Linked DNA regions of Homo sapiens. The protein of the gene in region 1 purifies or fractionates together with the protein of each later gene. This does not show direct contact. Each region holds a gene or a part of one and is shown on either strand. Other genes may lie near its edges. The genes, in order: HEXA and DHRS4.

Evidence for each region.
Region 2: the proteins of HEXA (region 1) and DHRS4 purify together in Homo sapiens (affinity purification with mass spectrometry; 2 studies listed by BioGRID and IntAct, with this or other methods). This does not show direct contact.

Annotation. Positions count from the first base shown.
Region 1 is NC_000015.10:72,343,049-72,352,078, forward strand, and holds part of HEXA (beta-hexosaminidase subunit alpha isoform 2 preproprotein), read right to left. Parts: intron 8,187-9,030; coding exon 8,085-8,186; intron 7,603-8,084; coding exon 7,470-7,602; intron 6,212-7,469; coding exon 6,031-6,211; intron 5,087-6,030; coding exon 5,000-5,086; intron 4,711-4,999; coding exon 4,638-4,710; intron 3,663-4,637; coding exon 3,479-3,662; intron 3,278-3,478; coding exon 3,187-3,277; intron 2,503-3,186; coding exon 2,398-2,502; exon of another isoform or gene 2,181-2,397; intron 1,093-2,180; coding exon 1,029-1,092; 3' UTR 1-1,028. UniProt on the Homo sapiens protein: Hydrolyzes the non-reducing end N-acetyl-D-hexosamine and/or sulfated N-acetyl-D-hexosamine of glycoconjugates, such as the oligosaccharide moieties from proteins and neutral glycolipids, or from certain mucopolysaccharides.
Region 2 is NC_000014.9:23,961,740-23,969,779, reverse strand, and holds the end of DHRS4 (dehydrogenase/reductase SDR family member 4), read right to left. Parts: intron 5,203-8,040; coding exon of another isoform or gene 5,182-5,202; exon of another isoform or gene 4,019-5,181; coding exon 3,948-4,018; exon of another isoform or gene 3,849-3,947; coding exon 3,797-3,848; exon of another isoform or gene 3,498-3,796; coding exon 3,363-3,497; exon of another isoform or gene 3,075-3,362; intron 2,971-3,074; exon of another isoform or gene 2,709-2,970; intron 2,570-2,708; coding exon 2,514-2,569; coding exon of another isoform or gene 2,510-2,513; exon of another isoform or gene 2,097-2,509; intron 1,024-2,096; coding exon 909-1,023; 3' UTR 501-908; downstream 1-500. UniProt on the Homo sapiens protein: NADPH-dependent oxidoreductase which catalyzes the reduction of a variety of compounds bearing carbonyl groups including ketosteroids, alpha-dicarbonyl compounds, aldehydes, aromatic ketones and quinones.

The DNA.
Region 1 (9,030 bases):
ATCTCTACTAAAAATACAAAAAATTAGCCGGGCGTGGTGGCGGGCGCCTGTAGTCCCAGCTACTGGGGAGGCTGAGGCAGGAGAATGGCGTGAACCCAGGAGGTGGAGCTTGCAGTGAGTCGAGATCGTGCCACTGCACTCCAGCCTGTGTGACAGTGAGACTCCGTCTCAGAAAAAAAAAATATATATATATGAATTAGATGGACATGGTGGCACGTGCCTATTAATTCCAGTTACTCAGGAGGCTGATGCACGAGAATCGCTTGAACCCAGGAGGCAGAGGCTGCAGTGAGCCAAGATTGTGCCACTGCACTGTCAGCCTGGGCGACAGAGTTTTTGAGACAGTCTCAAAAACAAAAACAACAAAAAAACCCACTACCACAGTGCCTAGAGAACAATATGTGTTTAATAATATTTAAATAATGGTTGTATAAAATTGAAGCAGCAAGAAACCCAAAGGAGAATAGCTCTAGGGGAGGGAGGTGGATGAGTATGCATGGGGGAGAGGCTCTTCTGTGACCAGGTTGGGTCTGGAGCCCTCCCCACTGTCCAGAACACCTCCAAGCCCCTACATCTTTTTCCATATACCAACGCCTTGGAGATATAATGCAGAAGTGAAGTGAGCAGGCTGAGGATTAGGGCAGGTGTCTGGAATATGGTCAGGAGTGGGAGGGGAGTGACATAGCTCACAGGCAAGGCAGAACAGCACAAAGGCTATAGGTTTCATTCCCAGCCCTCAACTTAAAAGACCTCAGGGGCAGACACTGACTCCAGCCTGGCTGTGCCCTTACCCTAACGCCATTCACACTTTTTTTTTTAAACACAGGTAATCCATGTTTATTATAGAAAAATGCCACATTACTCTTTATTGAATGCGAGCGCCAGCACCGGCCCCTTTCTCTCCAAGCACAGGGGCACGCAGGCAAGGGGCACGAAGGCAAGGGGCTCCGTCCCCTGGCCAGGATGCAGTGGAAGCCTGGCTCCACTACCATTCACCTACAGCCAGCACCCTCCTCGGTGCCTGGGGCTCAGGTCTGTTCAAACTCCTGCTCACAGAAGCCTACATTGAGGGGTTGGGCCTGGACACCTCGCCTGCAAGAGGACATGAAGAAATGGCAAGATAAGCCCCTCAGAAGGGGCCCCAGCAACACTTTTCACACCAGTCAACAGTCTCTCCTTCCCCATTTCGGTGACTCTCAAACTGTCACTGTACACCAAATGCACCTGGGAATCTCAATTCCAGAGATTCTCACCTGGGGTGGGGCAAAGTATTGGCAAGAATCTGCAAGCTGAACAGGTGCCTCAGGTGATTCTGATACAGGTCTTGGAGATCCAGAAACGTTGGCGACATCTATTTATATCCTGCCCATCTCTGTACCCTAACCCCAAATAACTCAATCCCTTTAGAATATAGATGGATGTCTGAAAGGCAGCCAATGCTCTTGGTCTACTTAGCCCTCTGTTCCTGACTCTAAAATGCTGTAAATATGGTGGCACTGGGGGACTTAGGTGCTGTCCTGTCCATGAACATGGATGCGAAATCCTGTCCTTGGGTCTCAGTCTATAACCTGACCAATCTCCTTAGGGGACCTCTAGGCATGCTTCCCTTATCATCCAAGTAAGCAACATGCTTAGAGAACCAGCTGGAAGTTACCCAGTGAATGACATAATTGAGGCTTAGACACCATCATGCTTGACTCTCAGCCCAGGACTCTGCTCTGCACTAGGCTATGTCCCCCAAGTACTCAAGACCTAGCCAACGAAGGAATCAGGGAAATGACTATCTTACACAGGCACATCCCTGACAGAGGCAAAGGTGTCATGACATCCTGTAAGTCAGCCTGGTTCAAATCCTGCTTCTTAGTGACTTTGGGCAAGGTCCTGAACTCTGTGCTTCAGTGTCTATCTCTAAAATGCACCTGTCTCATGGGGCTGTGGTGAAGACTAAATGAGACAATATTTGTAACAAACTTAGCACAGTGTTTGCCACAAAATACAGTTGTCCCTCAGTATCCACAGGGGATTTGTTTCAGGACCCCCGTGGATACCAAAATCCAAGGATGCTCAAGTCCCTTATATAAAAATGACATAGTATTTGCATATAACCAATGTACAACTTCCCATATACTTGAAATGATCTTAGATTACTTATACCTAATACAATATAAATGCTATGTAAATAGTTGTTATACAGTATTTTTTATTTGTACCATTTTTTGTTGTATTTTTTTTTTCCTGAATACTTTTTATCGCAGTTGGTTGAATCCGTGGATGAGGGCTGACTATAAGCCTCTGTAAGTGTTAGCTATTGTTAATTATTGTCTTCCTCTCTCTAAGGGGTTCCCCAGCCCTGGATCTGGCCTGCTCCGCCTTGCGAAGGCCCCACAGCTTGCTTACCTCAGCAATTCACAGCGGAAGTGTGACAAACGTTCATAGGCAAATGTCAGGTCAGATGTCAACTTGTTGCTCCACAGCCTTTCGGCAACAGCCCCTGCTCTGGGCCTGGAGGAAAAGGGGCATGTGCCAGATTGGGCCCTGTATTCCCTGCAAAGGTGCTGGACATCCACAGGCTGCTACCTCTTGTCTAGGCACCCTGGACTCACTCAGGCCAAAGGAAGTGATCAATACCTTGTTATGAGCCACAGCCAGGTTGGATGGCTCCCAGAGAGTTCTACGGCTCAGCTCCACCTTCATTAAAATGTGGGTAGCAATCCCACTCTCTTCCTCTCTCAAAGATATGGGAATAAGAATAAACCTTAAAGCCATCATTAACCACAATGACAGTGGCAGCAGCAGAGGTCCTTAAAATGTAAACTTTGCACACCCAACCATACTTGGTAAGGCTGCAGTGAAAACAGCAGAGGGAAGCCTTATTACAGGAATCATGGATGCTTGTGCTGGGTCTTGAGCAACTCACCTATGTTCTCCAGGCCTCATTATCTCTCTGGGAAGTAAGGTTAACAATCCCTATCCCACATACCAAAGGGCAGCTGGAGGGATATAGACGGAAGTCATGTGGAGAGTGAATATTGCACACAAATCTTCAGAAGGCTCGTTGCACGGCCTGCTCTCTCTCAGGCCTGAAAGAAGGGTACTAGTCCAGAGGTGGCTAGATGGGATTGGGTCTCTAAGGGAGAACTCCTGCTCTCAGGCCCAACCCTCCACCTCCCCCCCGAAAACCCTTACCAGAGCCTGGGGACCAGGTTTGTGTTGTCCACATATTCTCCCCACATACAAGCCTCTCCACCAATCACCAGAGCCTTCTGCTCAGGGGTACCTGAGGGAAAACAAGCAACAACAGTCTGGTGATGGTGGGGTAACTCCAGGGTCCCTCTCAACCACCTTCCCAATGTGGCCCTCACCCCAGCTAAGTTGTTTCATTTACTAACTGGAAATGTCTGGCCCAGACCTTCCTGCCTCCCATCCTGTGCCCCAACCCAGCCTCCTTTGGTTAGCAAGGAGAGCTCTCTGCTTTCACCTTCAAATGCCAGGGGTTCCACTATGTAGAAATCCTTCCAGTCAGGGCCATAGGATATACGGTTCAGGTACCAGGGGGCAGAGAGAAGGGCCCGGAAGCCGGCCTTGGTGACCAGTTCCAGCTCCTTCATATAGTTCACTGGAATATCCTCTCGCCACACCTGTATGATTGTGTCTGGCTGAATCTGTTATAAAAGGTCAAATGGCAGTAAGGACACAAAGCTGAGGAGATTCCTGGGCCTTATTCATACACAGGCAACATGGGACAACAGGTATGTGCTCCCTCTGTTCCCCAGCAGCAAAGTATGTCTCTGTGACTCCTGACCATTGAGCTCACACCTCAGGACAGAGGCCAAGGAATCCAGGGCCCTAAGAGGCCTCCCTGCAGCTCTCCTCCCCGTCCCTCTGCAGCCTCCCTGTCCACACAGAGCTAGTAATACCAGCTGTGAGCTGAGGGAGGCAAGCAGTGGGACCCAGGAGCTGCCATGTCCAAAAGTCTCCAGATGTTTCTGGGGACGGGACAAGGTTCCTGAAGAGTCCTTGCATGTGACAGGAGACTGGGATCTTACTGATCAACAATAAAGGAGAAGGTAACCTTGGTCCCACAGACCCAGAAGACCCTCATCTATGATTTAGGAAGAAAAATCCAGCCTATCCAAGTAACCTAACAGCAGAAATAGTTCTTAATTAAGTTTGTAGTGAGGGAAGATAGAAACTCTGACACATAAACCCAGGGCTCATACCACAGCGGCCTTTGGTTTTTTTGAGGCAGGGTCTCACTCTGTTGCCCAGGGTTGAGTGCAGAGGCACATCTTGGCTCACAGCAACCTCTGCCTCCTGGGCTCAAGCAGTACCCCAACCTCAGCCTCCTGATTTTTGTATTTTTTGTAGAGATGAGGGTTTTGCTATGTTGGCCAGGCTGGTCTTGAACTCCTAGGCTCAAGCAATCCCCCTGCCTTGGCCTACCAAAGTGCTTGGATTACAGGCGTGAGCCACTGCACCCAGCACTCTGTGGCCTTTCTAGAGAGAAAAGGAGAGTGCTCCGACCATTAAAGCCCAATCCAAACCAGGAGGATCAGTCTCTGTAGAGGCAGGGAGGAGCTGGGGAGACCAGAGGGAGGCACTGCTGGTGGCTTCTTCTCTTCTCTGCCCCGGCTCACCTTTACTTTATTATCAAACACCTCCTGCCACACCACATAGCCCTTGCCATAAGAAGAGACGATGTCCAGCAGCCTGGAGAGGAGAGGAGTGTCTAGTAAGTGTCTGCTTAGCTCAGATGGGTTCTAGACTGTTTGTGCCAGTGCTCTAGGGGTTGAGCCTGGCCAGGGGCCTATTCCTCATTAAGCAGTGTCTTTCCCCTGGGCTGAAAACCAACCACTCCAAATCTGAAAGGATGGGACAAAGGACAAGGGAACCCTGCAGGGACCAGACAGTGGCCAAGCAGGGCCTGACTCGGTATGGAAAGGGAGGACCCCACAGGAGGACCCCCAAGGGACCCCACCCACCCTCCTTCCTTCCTCACGTCTGGATGTAGAAGGACTCCAGCTGCTTGAAGTCCTCACCGAAGCCTTTCTTCCTCATAAAGTCCTGGATCTCTGGGTTGGACTTCCTGAATCCCAAGAGAAAATGAAGATTAATCTTTCAACATCCTGAAAGCCTAATGCCTGGGGATTAGTCACCTGGCCCCCTATAACTTCCTCTTTTCACCTGAAAAATCAAATAAGCAAGGATCTCAGAAGCCCTACATGTGGAAAGTGTGGCCAAGCAAAGTTATGTGAAGCAGGTGGGCTGTTGACACAGGCTGAGAAAGGCTGAGTCTGGACCTGAAGAGTTTTAAGTTCAAACTCCCAAAGAGAAAACATATTAATCCTCTCTGGACTGCAACATGAGAATCCAAGGTCTTAACTTGAAGCTCCAGCACACTGGATTTCGGCTTTCCTATCTGCTCTTCCAGTTGGATGACAAGCCTTGCTGTCTAACACCTGCTGCAGATCCCTTGCGTTATGACGTCCACATTTTGCTCACATTGTTCTCCTTCTGGAATATTTTCCCCTGCTCACATCTCCAAAAAGCCAAATTGATTTCCCCAGATTCAGCTCTAGCGCCCTCTTCTCAAAGAAGCCCCTCAGCCTCTTTTGAGCTTACTAGAACCAAGGGTTTGGACTTTACAACTGAATACTAATTAGACATTGTCACCTATTAGTCTTGAATTCTGTGTCTTGACTCTTCAACTAGACAATTTTAAGCCTTCATAAACAGGGATTATTTTTCTCTATCCCGAACTTTTCCAAGACAATTCTGTGCCCAGGGCTGTTTTTTCTATCAATACCTCAAGGATATGAGAGTAGGAAGGAAGAGGTTCACAGTGAAAGCCTTGCCAAAATCAGGTAGGATCTCTACGTAGATGGGCAGAGGAAGGCCTAAGACCTGAGCAATGTGAGCCCATACAGACCCCTGAGAGCAGCAGCTGAGCTAAGCAGCCCCTCGGGTGCTAACTTCTATTCTGAGTAAGCAACTGATCAGGCCACAGTGGGAAGATCAAAGGGCTCATACCAGCAGGTGAAATCAACCTCATCTCCTCCAAGATGAAGATAAAAATCTGGGAAGACAGAGCTGACTTCTAAGAAGAATGTGCTCATGAACTCATAGGTATTATTGAGACTGGGATTCACTGGTCCAAAGGTGCCAGAGGGCTCAGACCCAGAGTAGCAAGGAGTCAGTAATCCAGGGATACCTAAGCCAAGAGAAAACCCCATATGAGTGTCACAAATACATAAACCCCCACGCACAGTCCTACACGTAAGGACACGAGTCACACAAAGCAAGACAAGTGTATTCATAAACATCACACACATTTAGGTAGGCACACTTAGGCACTCACAGACACTGGTAGTCACCACCATTTAGTCACAGTAAAAAGATACAAATATATCCACAATCATAGGCAGAGGCTAAGTTCCAGCCAGACAACTGTCAGTGCGCACACTCTTGCCTGGACACACTGCTTCTAGCAGGTGCTACCCTTGCTCCCAAGGCTGCTCTCCTCACAGGCCTTGAGGCAGAGAGAGAGCCTAATCCAGCCAAACTGGCAAAATCTTTCTTCTCTATCTCCTCCTGTAGGTGGGGTCAACCATCACCCAGAATCTTTTTACATTTGCTAAGGGATATCTCCCTTGGCCCAGAGACTACTTCCTGACGCTGAGGTCACAAGATATCTTCAGGGTTTTTTTTTGGTTGTTGTTGTTTGTTTGTTTTTGAGACAGAGTCTTGCTCTGTCGCCCAGGCTGGAGTACAGTGGCATGATCTTGGCTCACTGCAACCTCTGCCTCCTGGGTTCAAGCGATTCTCCTGCCTCAGCCTCCCGAGTAGCTGGGATTACAGGCGCCTGCCACCACGCCTGGCTAATTTTTGTATTTTTAGTAGAGATGGAGTTTCACCATGTTGGCCAGGCTGGTCTTGAACTCCTGACCTCAGGTGATCCACCCGCCTTGGCCTCCAAAAGTGGTGGGATTACAGACATGAGCCACCACGCCCGGCCAATATCTTCAGTTTTCTATCAGGCCAGTAGCCCTTTTCAACTGTCATTTAACCTGTGTTGGGGGCTCACACTGGAGGGCTGAGGGTATACAGAAGAAAGGGAGCAGGGGTACTGACTGACTCTGACCTCTGCAGGCTGCCCTTGGGCTTCTTTCTTTCAGATTCTACCCTGGTGGTCAGATTCCTCAGCATCCACTCTAGGCACAACTACCTGCAACGGCATCTGAGAAAAATGTGCCCTTACATAGTCTAACAGTACATATTTTAATAGTAAGAAGCAGCCTCCATTGTCCAAAGTGAGTTCTTCCTATCTAAATTCCCAGGTGGAAGAAGTCGATGGAAAACATTCTTCTAAGGACCAAGGCTGGGATATGCCACTTCCATGAGCCAGTGCCCTGAAGCTTCACTCTGAGCATAACAAGCAGAGTCCCTCTGGTCCCAGACATCATTCTTACCTGGTCCCCAGGACAAAGTGTGGCCAGGAGTGTCAAACTCTGCAAGCACACGGATACCCCGGAGCCGTGCGTATTCAATGACCTCCTTCACATCCTGTGCTGTGTAGATGTGGGTGACAGGGTTGTAGGACCCCTGAAAGGCACAAGACACCCTTCAGGTTCACACTTCCTGAAAGCTAGCAGAGTAGAAGATACTCAAAATGCCCACAAGACTCCCCAGATATCAGAAAACCTGCCCATAGCCCTTTGGTGTCAGGGACTATCTTCAAAAAACTTGATCATAATTTCCCAGAAGTTATCACATCTGTTTTATCTGAGTATCATAATGCCAGTGAGATAATCATGGTAGGTATTAATACTATGTCCATTTAACAGAATATAAATACATAAAAAGGGAATAAGGCCAGAAGAGATTCTCTCCTGAAGGTCACAAGGCAAATTATCGGCAAAGTTTTGGACTTGAACTCAAGTCTCCTGACTCCAAATCCAGTGTCCTTCCCCTATATTGGTCTAAAACTGGCTGGTTAGGATGAGAGACCCTGTTCTTGCCAGCAGGGCCACAGCCAGATTCAGACATTGACCCATAAACTTGGTCTGAGTGAAACGGGAACATACCTTTCTCATGAGCTCTGGAAAAGTGAAGCTCTCATATGGGAAGGAAGGATCATCTACCAGATGCCAGTGGAACACGTTCAATTTATTGTACGCCATGACATCCTGTAGGTTAAAGTGCACACTGTGAACCCATCACAGTCTCTCCGGTTTCAGCCTCAAACTTGCGATGTTGGGCGAGCTCTCAGGCCGCTCCACACACCCCTACAGGCTTGACCTGCCTCAGCTCTCAATTAAGTATTTATGGGGTCTATCAAACCTTCCCATCAGGGAGGGATGGCATGGAGGGAAGGCCCAGCACACTTCTACTTTTCCCAGAACACATCCAAAGATGGATGATAGAAGTGGTCTTTCCTCTTCTTGAAATAAATTCTGGCCACATTAAGAGGAGGGCTGCAGCTACTGTGGTAGCCTGGAATCTTCCAAAAGCCTGAAGATCAATACTTCCTCTTGCCATTTGTGTTCGGTTGTCTGACTGATGTTAAGCCCAACTGTGAGACCTCCTGGGAACTTAGTAGCCTCTTAACTCATAATCTCAGAAGCAAAGGCTGGCAGATGTGTGGCCTCCTTTGGTTCCGTCACAGGAGCAAAGGAAAAGGCAGACACAGGAACTGGATTGGGAACTGTCAGATAAGACTGCACATTAAACTCAAGAGAGTTAGGAACTTCCCCAGGAAAGGCTTTTTTTTTTTTTTTTTTTTTTTTTGAGACAGAGTCTTGCTGTGTCACCCAGGCTGGAGTGCAGTGGCACAATCTCAGCTCACTGCAACCTCCACCTCCCAGGTTCAAGTGCTTCTCATGCCTCAGCCTCCTTCCTTCCTTCACTTATTTATTTATTTATTTATTTTTGAGACAGGGTCTCTGTTGTCCAGGCTGGAGTGCAGTGGTGCAATCACAGTTCATGCATCCTTGATCTCCCCAGGCTCAGGTGATTCTCCCATCACAGACT
Region 2 (8,040 bases), on another chromosome or scaffold:
CAGCGTGTGTCGCCCAGTGTCAGTGCCTTTGGGGCGGGGGACAGCGTCCCCACTTTCCTTCTACTGAATCCTCGGGCCCGTGGGCAGAACCCATTGCTTTTGTTTGTGGGCCTGGGTACCTTGCAGGGCCTTTCTCTATTCCCCACCGGCTCAGGACCCATCCAGCTTGTACTTGCTGACTCGGGAGGGAACTCGGGTCGTAGGGCCATGCGGGGAGAGGACCTGGCCTGATCTGGGAGGCAAGGGGCGGGGAGGTGTTAGAGAGTTCATCCTTCCCCACTCTCTCCGGGCTCGCGCTGCCTCGGGGATTCCCGTGGCGTCCTGGGAGTTCCCGTGCCACCTTCCTTCCAGCTGGCAGCTCTGCAGACACCTCCACCCGTGAACATCACGCTCAAGTTCTGGAGACAGGGAGGAGGGCTGGGGGATCCAGAGATCCAGCCTGAATAGACTTCTGCTCTCTGCTCAGCTAAGCACCCAACACTGAGAAATGAACAGGTCAATTGGATTCAAAGCCGCGCAATCATCTGCATTTTATTTGCACCTCATTTGCAAGTTGTTAATTTGCAACTCTGCTCCTTCCACTCCAGGTTCCTTCTCTCCCATCACCCCTCAGATTCCCCAGTGGCCCGGGAAAAAATATCTTGGTCTTTGCCAAGGTAGACTCAGCCTTGTCAGCAGGCCTGTCCTGTGTTCTCAGGGGAGGCCTTTACCCAAGGCCACAACAACAGCAGAAATCCCGAGTAAGACGCCACCTTGACGGCAGGGAAGGCTGGATCTTTTCACAGGGCAGAACTGATTTGATGAGGTGAACAGTAAGGTGAGCAGAGGTGGGAAAGGCCAGTGGGTGAATGCGGGAACAGCACCAGGAGCTAGAGCCCAACTCTGGCCTGTGGGCTGTCTCCCGGTCCTCAGAGGCGGGACGGGGTTCCTCCACCCACCACCACTGTTTCCCCAGTGATGTAGCTGGCATCTTCAGAGCACAGGAAAGACACGATGCCAGCACAATCCTCTGGCTCGCCTAACCTGGGGAATAAGGGAAGCAAGGAAGGAGGTAAAAATCAAACAGTTCTGCCTCCCTCACCTGGGACACAGGGAGTTAAATTTGCTTAATCAAGAATTATCAGATGGCTTTTTCAGGGTCAGTGTACAAGCTTTCTGCCTATCAAATAGGGTTACCACGAGGATATGCTGTTATAATTTAGTATAAGCATACTGTACTCTGCAAAACTATTACCCATAATATTCAAATACTATAGAAACACACCGGTTTTTAGAGAGCTCAGGACACCAAAATCCAAAGTTATATAGATAAAATGGTGAGCAATTATTTCATACTTCAAAAAAATGGTTTCACATGTGCACACACTAAAGTATCAGGGAGTCTGTGTGACAGTAAATGGTGTGTTTAAAATGATTCCATTTGTACAGGTTCAGCTTAGAACTTTTTCAGGAATCTATACTTGTGCCTTAAAGTCAGGTTCATTTAGTGAGAATGTGCTAATTCTTATTTTATCAGTGACTGCATAGTTAGGAGACACTTTAATCTCCCTGCCATAGAATGCTCTAGAGGTGGGCAGAGTGAGTAACTCAAACCTAGAAGGGCTGAATTAATGCTTCTCCATTCTACTTGTATCTTGCAATCATTTGAGAGGCTTAAACCAAAAAAGAAAAGAAAAGAAAAGACAAAGAAAAACAAAAGCCCAGATGGTCAAGTCCTACCTTGGACCAATTAAAAAGAATCTCTGGGAGTGGGTGGGGCCTGAGCACCTGCAGTTTAAAAAGCTCCCCAGGTGATTCTAATGTGAATCCAGTATTGAGCTACATGGGCTAGATCATTCATTGGTGCTCTAGGTTGACAATCCCCTCACTTATTAATGAGTTATGAACCAGGCCTGCAGCTCATGTCTCACATCAGAATGGCTTTGGGAAGATTTGGGATGTCTGGACGAGTACAGAGTTAGGCATTACTGGCATTTGTCCTTGAAGCCAGAAGGTAGAGAGAGGCAGGGAACTTAGAGGAAAGGGAGCCCGACAAAGGTGCTTGAACAGTTCACCCAGCTCACTGGGGAAGAAAGTAACTCCTTAGGCAAGGGGAGTTTGGGGCTTAGTAAAACTCTTCATTCTTTTCATTTGGATTGTAGATCATCAACCTGAGTTTTGTAAACATGTGTCATTATTCAAGGGGACTAACAAAGCATGGTTTTGGTTATGGTCCCTGGTCTCCATGGATGCTCAGAGGTGGAGGCAATCCCCCAGGTGGAGAGAGGACTCAGGGCTTCTCCCAGAGCTCTGCACTGCTGAAACCCCGATGTCTCTGTGTTTACCTTTTGAAAGGGAAGCTGACTTCTTGCTCAGGTCACTGTAGTGATAGTGTTTATGAATTCGTGGTCTGTGAGGCAGAAGAGAGCCTGCCTGTGTTATCTGTGGGACTGAGACAGCGGGCTGTGGGCTGCTAGGGACCAGACCTTCCCATCTTCATGTCTCTTAGTGCCCTTGCCCTCATGACAGTTTACCTTCTTATCCGCAGGGTTTCTTTCATGCTTTCCTCTTTTTCCTTGTCCATCCAGAGCTGCAGGAAGAAGGGAAATCTCTTTATGTTTTTTTTTTCTTTTTCTTTTTCTTTTTAGAGACGGAGTCTTGCTCTTTTGCCCAGGCCGGACTGTAGTGGCGCTATCTTGGCTCACTGCAAACTCCGCCTCCCGGGTTATGCCATTCTCCTGCCTCAGCCTCCCGAGTAGCTGGGATTACAGGCGCTCGCCACTGCGCCCGGCTAATTTTTTGTATTTTTAGTAGAGACGGGGTTTCACCGTGTTAGCCAAGATGGTCTCGACCTCCTGACCTCGTGATCTGCCCGCCTCGGCCTCCCAATGTGCTGGGATTACAGGCATGAGCCACCCCACCCAGAAATCTCTTTATGTTTAAGAAGAGGAAAGTGAAGAACGGAAAGGGAAGAAACTGCCCATCCTCATGGTAACTGAGAGGAGGGATGGGGAGAGAGACTTCCCTCTTTCACTTCCTATTTTTTTCTAGCTCCCAGCTCTCCCCACTGCCCTCATCTGTTTCATTTGTTTCAGGTTCTAGTGATGCATTTTGCTGCGTCTCTCCAATTCTCATCCATGTAAGGAGGGAGGAAACAGTGTGAGTACAGTCTGAATACCTCAGTCTCCAGCCTATACCTCAGAAAAGGTGTGATAAGAGTGTGGCTTGTATAGGGCAGGTGGTACAGAGAGGGAATATGGGAAAGTCCAGGGAAGGAGAATGGAGTGGCTGAGAGCTCAGGACTCAGGTAGTGGGCTTCCCTGTCCAAGAAGATGGATGCCTTTCAAGGGGTCCCAGTCAAATGCAAAGCTCCCCTTCCTCACCATCCTGCTGAAGCTAGTCTTGATAAGTCCAGGTGCTAGGCAGTTCACCCTAATGTTCCTTGGGGCCAGCTCTATGGCCAGGGTCTTGGTCAGGCCCAGCAAGGCTGTTTTACTGACATTGTAAGGACTGAAGCCCTGGAGAAAGAAGAGAATGTGTTAGACTCATAGTTTCCAGGTCATTCTTGGTTCTAATAACTAGACATAGAGGGCAGTGCTCAATAGGGATCTCCTGTAAGGGAGGGGCAGAGTTAGGGAACTGTCTTGTGGCTAAACCTCCCCTAGGTTGTGGTTTGTGGAGGCAAGGCATCTATTTTGTGGGCAGGGACTTGGTGGTGTGATTCTACAAGGGGACACAAACTTCCTTGGGTAATAGGAGGGGTGGAAAGATGTGGAGTGGAGGGTGGGATGGAAGAGGTAGACAAAAGGGTTCTTACAGGAGATGGACTGAAGGCTGCTATGGAAGACACGATCACCACTGAGCCGCCTCTGGAAAAAGAAGAGAGCTGACCATCTTCCCATTGTGGACCAGTGCCCTCAGCCCGTGTGGTGTCCCCTCTCACCCAGGCTCTCTCTCACTCTCTGTACCCTCGTTTCTCCATTTCTGGCACCACTGCCTTTGTCATCAGGGCTGGGGCCTTCACATTAATGTCCAGAGTCTGAAGCCAAGAGAAGAAGGGGAAACAGCATGAGTGAAGAGCACTGGAGGAGGCATGAAAAAATGAGGAGTTAGAGTGGGTTCCTAGGATGTTTGTCAGAGCTGACGAAGATCTTAGGATGATATACCTGCATCTTACACATGAAGGAACTGAGGTTCAGGGAGAAGTAGCTCTCACCAGCTGCTCAGCTAGATATTGATACATTAGGTTCAGGTGAGCAAAAATGGAGCCTGGTTCATCTTGTTTCATAATCAGCCAAGTATGATTTGGGCCAGAAGGGGCCTTTGGATTTGAGCTGTGTTTTCTCTGTTTCTTCCAAGTAGGTAGAGCCTGGAATTGTCAGCCTCCTGGACCTGCCCTAGACTACCTGCCCTAGAGTAGGCCATGCTTCTCAGGGAAAATGTGGCCTGACCTTGGATATGTGGGGTTGTTCTAGCACTTCTCTGGCTTCTGGGCTTAGGGAGTGAGATGTTCTTGGCCCTCTAGGAAGGACTGTCTGGCTAGGCATGGTTAGAAAGTGGGATCATGAGGAGTCACCTTCTGGGGAAGCTGGGGGACAGGCTACAATCAGAATCCCCACATCCATAATCTAAAACAAATGTATGACCCTGTTTACACTGTTCTAGACAACTGCTTATATTAAAATATTTCAATCTTACAGAAAAATTGGAGATAGAAGTACAATGAATGTCTAGATATCCTTCACTTAGATTCACCAATTGTTCACATTTTGTCCTATTTGTCCTCTCTGTAGATCTGTACAGTTTTTTAAATGAACCATTGAAACTCAGTTGCAAGTTTTCTGAAAGATTTTATATAATAAAATCAAAAATTACAAAGAACAAAAATAAAAAAATGTAAATTAAAAAAAAAAAACAAACTCAGGGCTGGGCATGGTGGCTCATGCCTGCAATCCCTGCACTTCGGGAGGCCAAGATGGGTGGATCACTTTTAGGTCAGGAGTTCGAGAACAGCCTGGGCAACATGGCAAACCTCGTCTGTACTAAAAATACAAAAATTAGCCAGACGTGGTGGCATGTGTTTGTAATCCAAGCTACTCAGGAGGATGAGACAGCAGAATAGCTTGAACCCGGGAGGTGGAGGTTGCAGTGAGCTGAGATAGCACCACTGCACTCCAGCCTGGGTAACAGAGTGAGGCTCCATCACAAAAATAAATAAATAACCTAAAATAAAATAAGTAAACTCAGTTGCAGATAGTACAATGTTCTATCCCCAAATACTTAGCATACATTTCCAAAGAGTAAGGATTTTCTTTTACACAACCATAATCTGTTATCACAACCAAGAGTTTGACAATGATGATAATTTTATCTAACATATTGGCCTCAATTATCCCCCAAATGTGTGTGTGTGTTTTTTAAAGTCCAGAGTTCAATCAAGGATCAGCCATTATGTTTGGATTTGTCATACTGTGATAGTTTAAAAAATATACAAATTAAAAGAAAAGTTATAGACACATATTTTCTTATGCTTTGCAGATATTGTGTTTTTTTTTTTTTTTTTTTTTTTTTTTTTTTTTTACAAATTGCAGTTTCGTGGCAACCCTGCATTAATTCGAGCCATTTTTCCAATTGCATGTGCTCACTTTGTCTCTGGGTCACATTTTGGTAATTCTTGGAATATTTCAGACCTTTCCATTATTATTGTATCTGTTACGGTGATCTGTGATGAGTGATCTTTCATGGTTTTATTATAATTGTTTTGGGGTACCACAAACCACACCCAGAAAAGAAGGTCAACTTAATCGAAAAATGTTGTGTGTTCTGACTGCTCTGCCCTTCTCTCATCTCTCTCCCTCTCTGTGGGCCTCCATATTCCCTGAGACACATTTACATTGAAATTAGGCCAACTATTAACCCTACAATGGCTTGTAAGTGTTTAAGCAAAAGGAAGAGTCACACATCTTTCACTTTAAATCAAAAGCTAGAAACAATTAAGCTTAGTGAGGAAGGCATGTTGAAAGCTGAGGCAGGCTGAAAGTTAGACCATGTGCACCAGTTAGCCAAATTGTGAATGCAAAGGAAAAATTCTTGAAGGAAATTAAAAGTGCTACTTCTCTGAACATATAAATGATAAGAAAGCAAAAGAGGTTTATTGTTAATATGGAGAGAAAGTTCTTATGTTCTGGACAGAAGATCAAACTAGCCACAACATTCCCTTAAGCCAAAGCCTAATCAGTAAAAGGCCCTAATTTTTAATTCTTTGAAGGCTGAGAGAGGTGAAGAAGCTCCGGAAAAGTTGGAAGCTAGCAGTGGTTGGTTCATGAGGTTTAAGAAGCCACCTCTGTAACATAAAAGTGCAAGATGAAGCAGCGAGTGCTGATGTAGAAGCTGCAGCCAGTTATCCAGAAGATCTAGCTAAGATCATTGATGAAGGTGGCTACAGCAAACAACAGATTTTCAATGTAGATGAAACAACCTTCTAGTGGAAGAAGATGCCATGTAGGGCTTTAATAGCTAGAGAGGAGAAGTCAATGCCTGGCTTCAAAACTTCAAAGGACAGGCTTATTCTCTTGTTAGGGGCTAATGCAGCCAGTGACTTTAAGTTGAAGCCAATGCTCATTTACCATTCTGAAAATTCTAGGGCCCTCAGATTTACGCTAAATCTACTCTGCCTGTGCTCTGCAAATGGAACAACAAAGCCTGAATAACAGCACATCTGTTTATAGCATGGTTTACTGAATATTTTAAGCTCACCGTTGATAGCTACTGCTCAGAAAAAGATTCCTTTCAAACTGTTACTGCTCATTGACAATGCACCTGGTCACTCAAAAGCTCTGATGGAGATGTACAAGGAGATTAATGTTGTTTTCATGCCTGCTAACACAACATCCATTCTGCAGCCCATGGATCGGGGGTAATTCTGACTTCCAAGACTTATTATTTAAGAAATACATTTTGTAAGGCTATAGCTGCCATGGATAGTGATTCCTCTGATGGATCTCGGCAAAGTTAACTGAAAACCTTCTGTAAAGGATGCACCATTTTAGATGCCATTAAGAATATTTGTGATTCATGGGAGGAGGTCAAAATATCTACATTAACAGGAGTCTGGAAGAAGTTGATTCCAACCCTCATGGATGACGTGGAAGGGTTCAAGACTGCATCAGAGGAAGGAACTGCAGATGTGGTGGAAATAGCAAGAGAACTAGAAGCGGAGCTGGAAGATGGGACTGAATTGCTACAATCTCACGATAAAATGTAGATGGCTGAGGAGCTGGTTCTTACGGATAAGCAAAGAAAGTGGTTTCTTGGGATGGAATCTATTTCTGGTGAAGATGCCATGAATATTGTTGAAATCACAACACGGGATTCAGAATATTATAGGTACTTAGTAGAGTAAGCAGTGGTAGAGTTTGATAGGATTGACTCCAATTTTGAAAGAAGTTCTACTGTGGGTAAATGCTATCAAACAGGATTGCATGCTACAGAGAAATCTCTTGTGAAAGGAAGAGTCAACTGATGTGGCAAACTTCACTGCTGTCTTATTTGAAAAAACTGCCACAGCCACCCCAGCCTTCAGCAACACCACCCTAAGTCAGCCACCATCAATGTTGAGGCAAGATCCTCCACCAGCAAAAAGATTACAAGTTGTAAAGGCTCAGATGATTGTCAGCATTTTTTTAGCAATAAAGTATTTTAAAATTAAGATACGTATATATATTTTAAAACATAATGCTATTGCTCAGTTAATAGACTTCCATTAGATGATCATTATAATGTAAACCTAACTTTTATATGCACTGGGAAACCAAAAAATTCATGTGACTCACTTTATTATAATATTCACTTTATTGTGTGGTGGCCTGGAACCAGACCCACAATATCTCTGAGGCGTGCCTGTACTTAGTTTAAAACTGACTTTCATATGGTCTCTATTCAGACTGTTCATGAATGATGCTCCTCTATTTTAAAGACTATCAGAATCTGGCTGTGTGTGGTGGCTCATGCCTGCAATCCCAATATTTTGGGGGGCTGAGGTGTGGGGATCAGTTGAGGCCA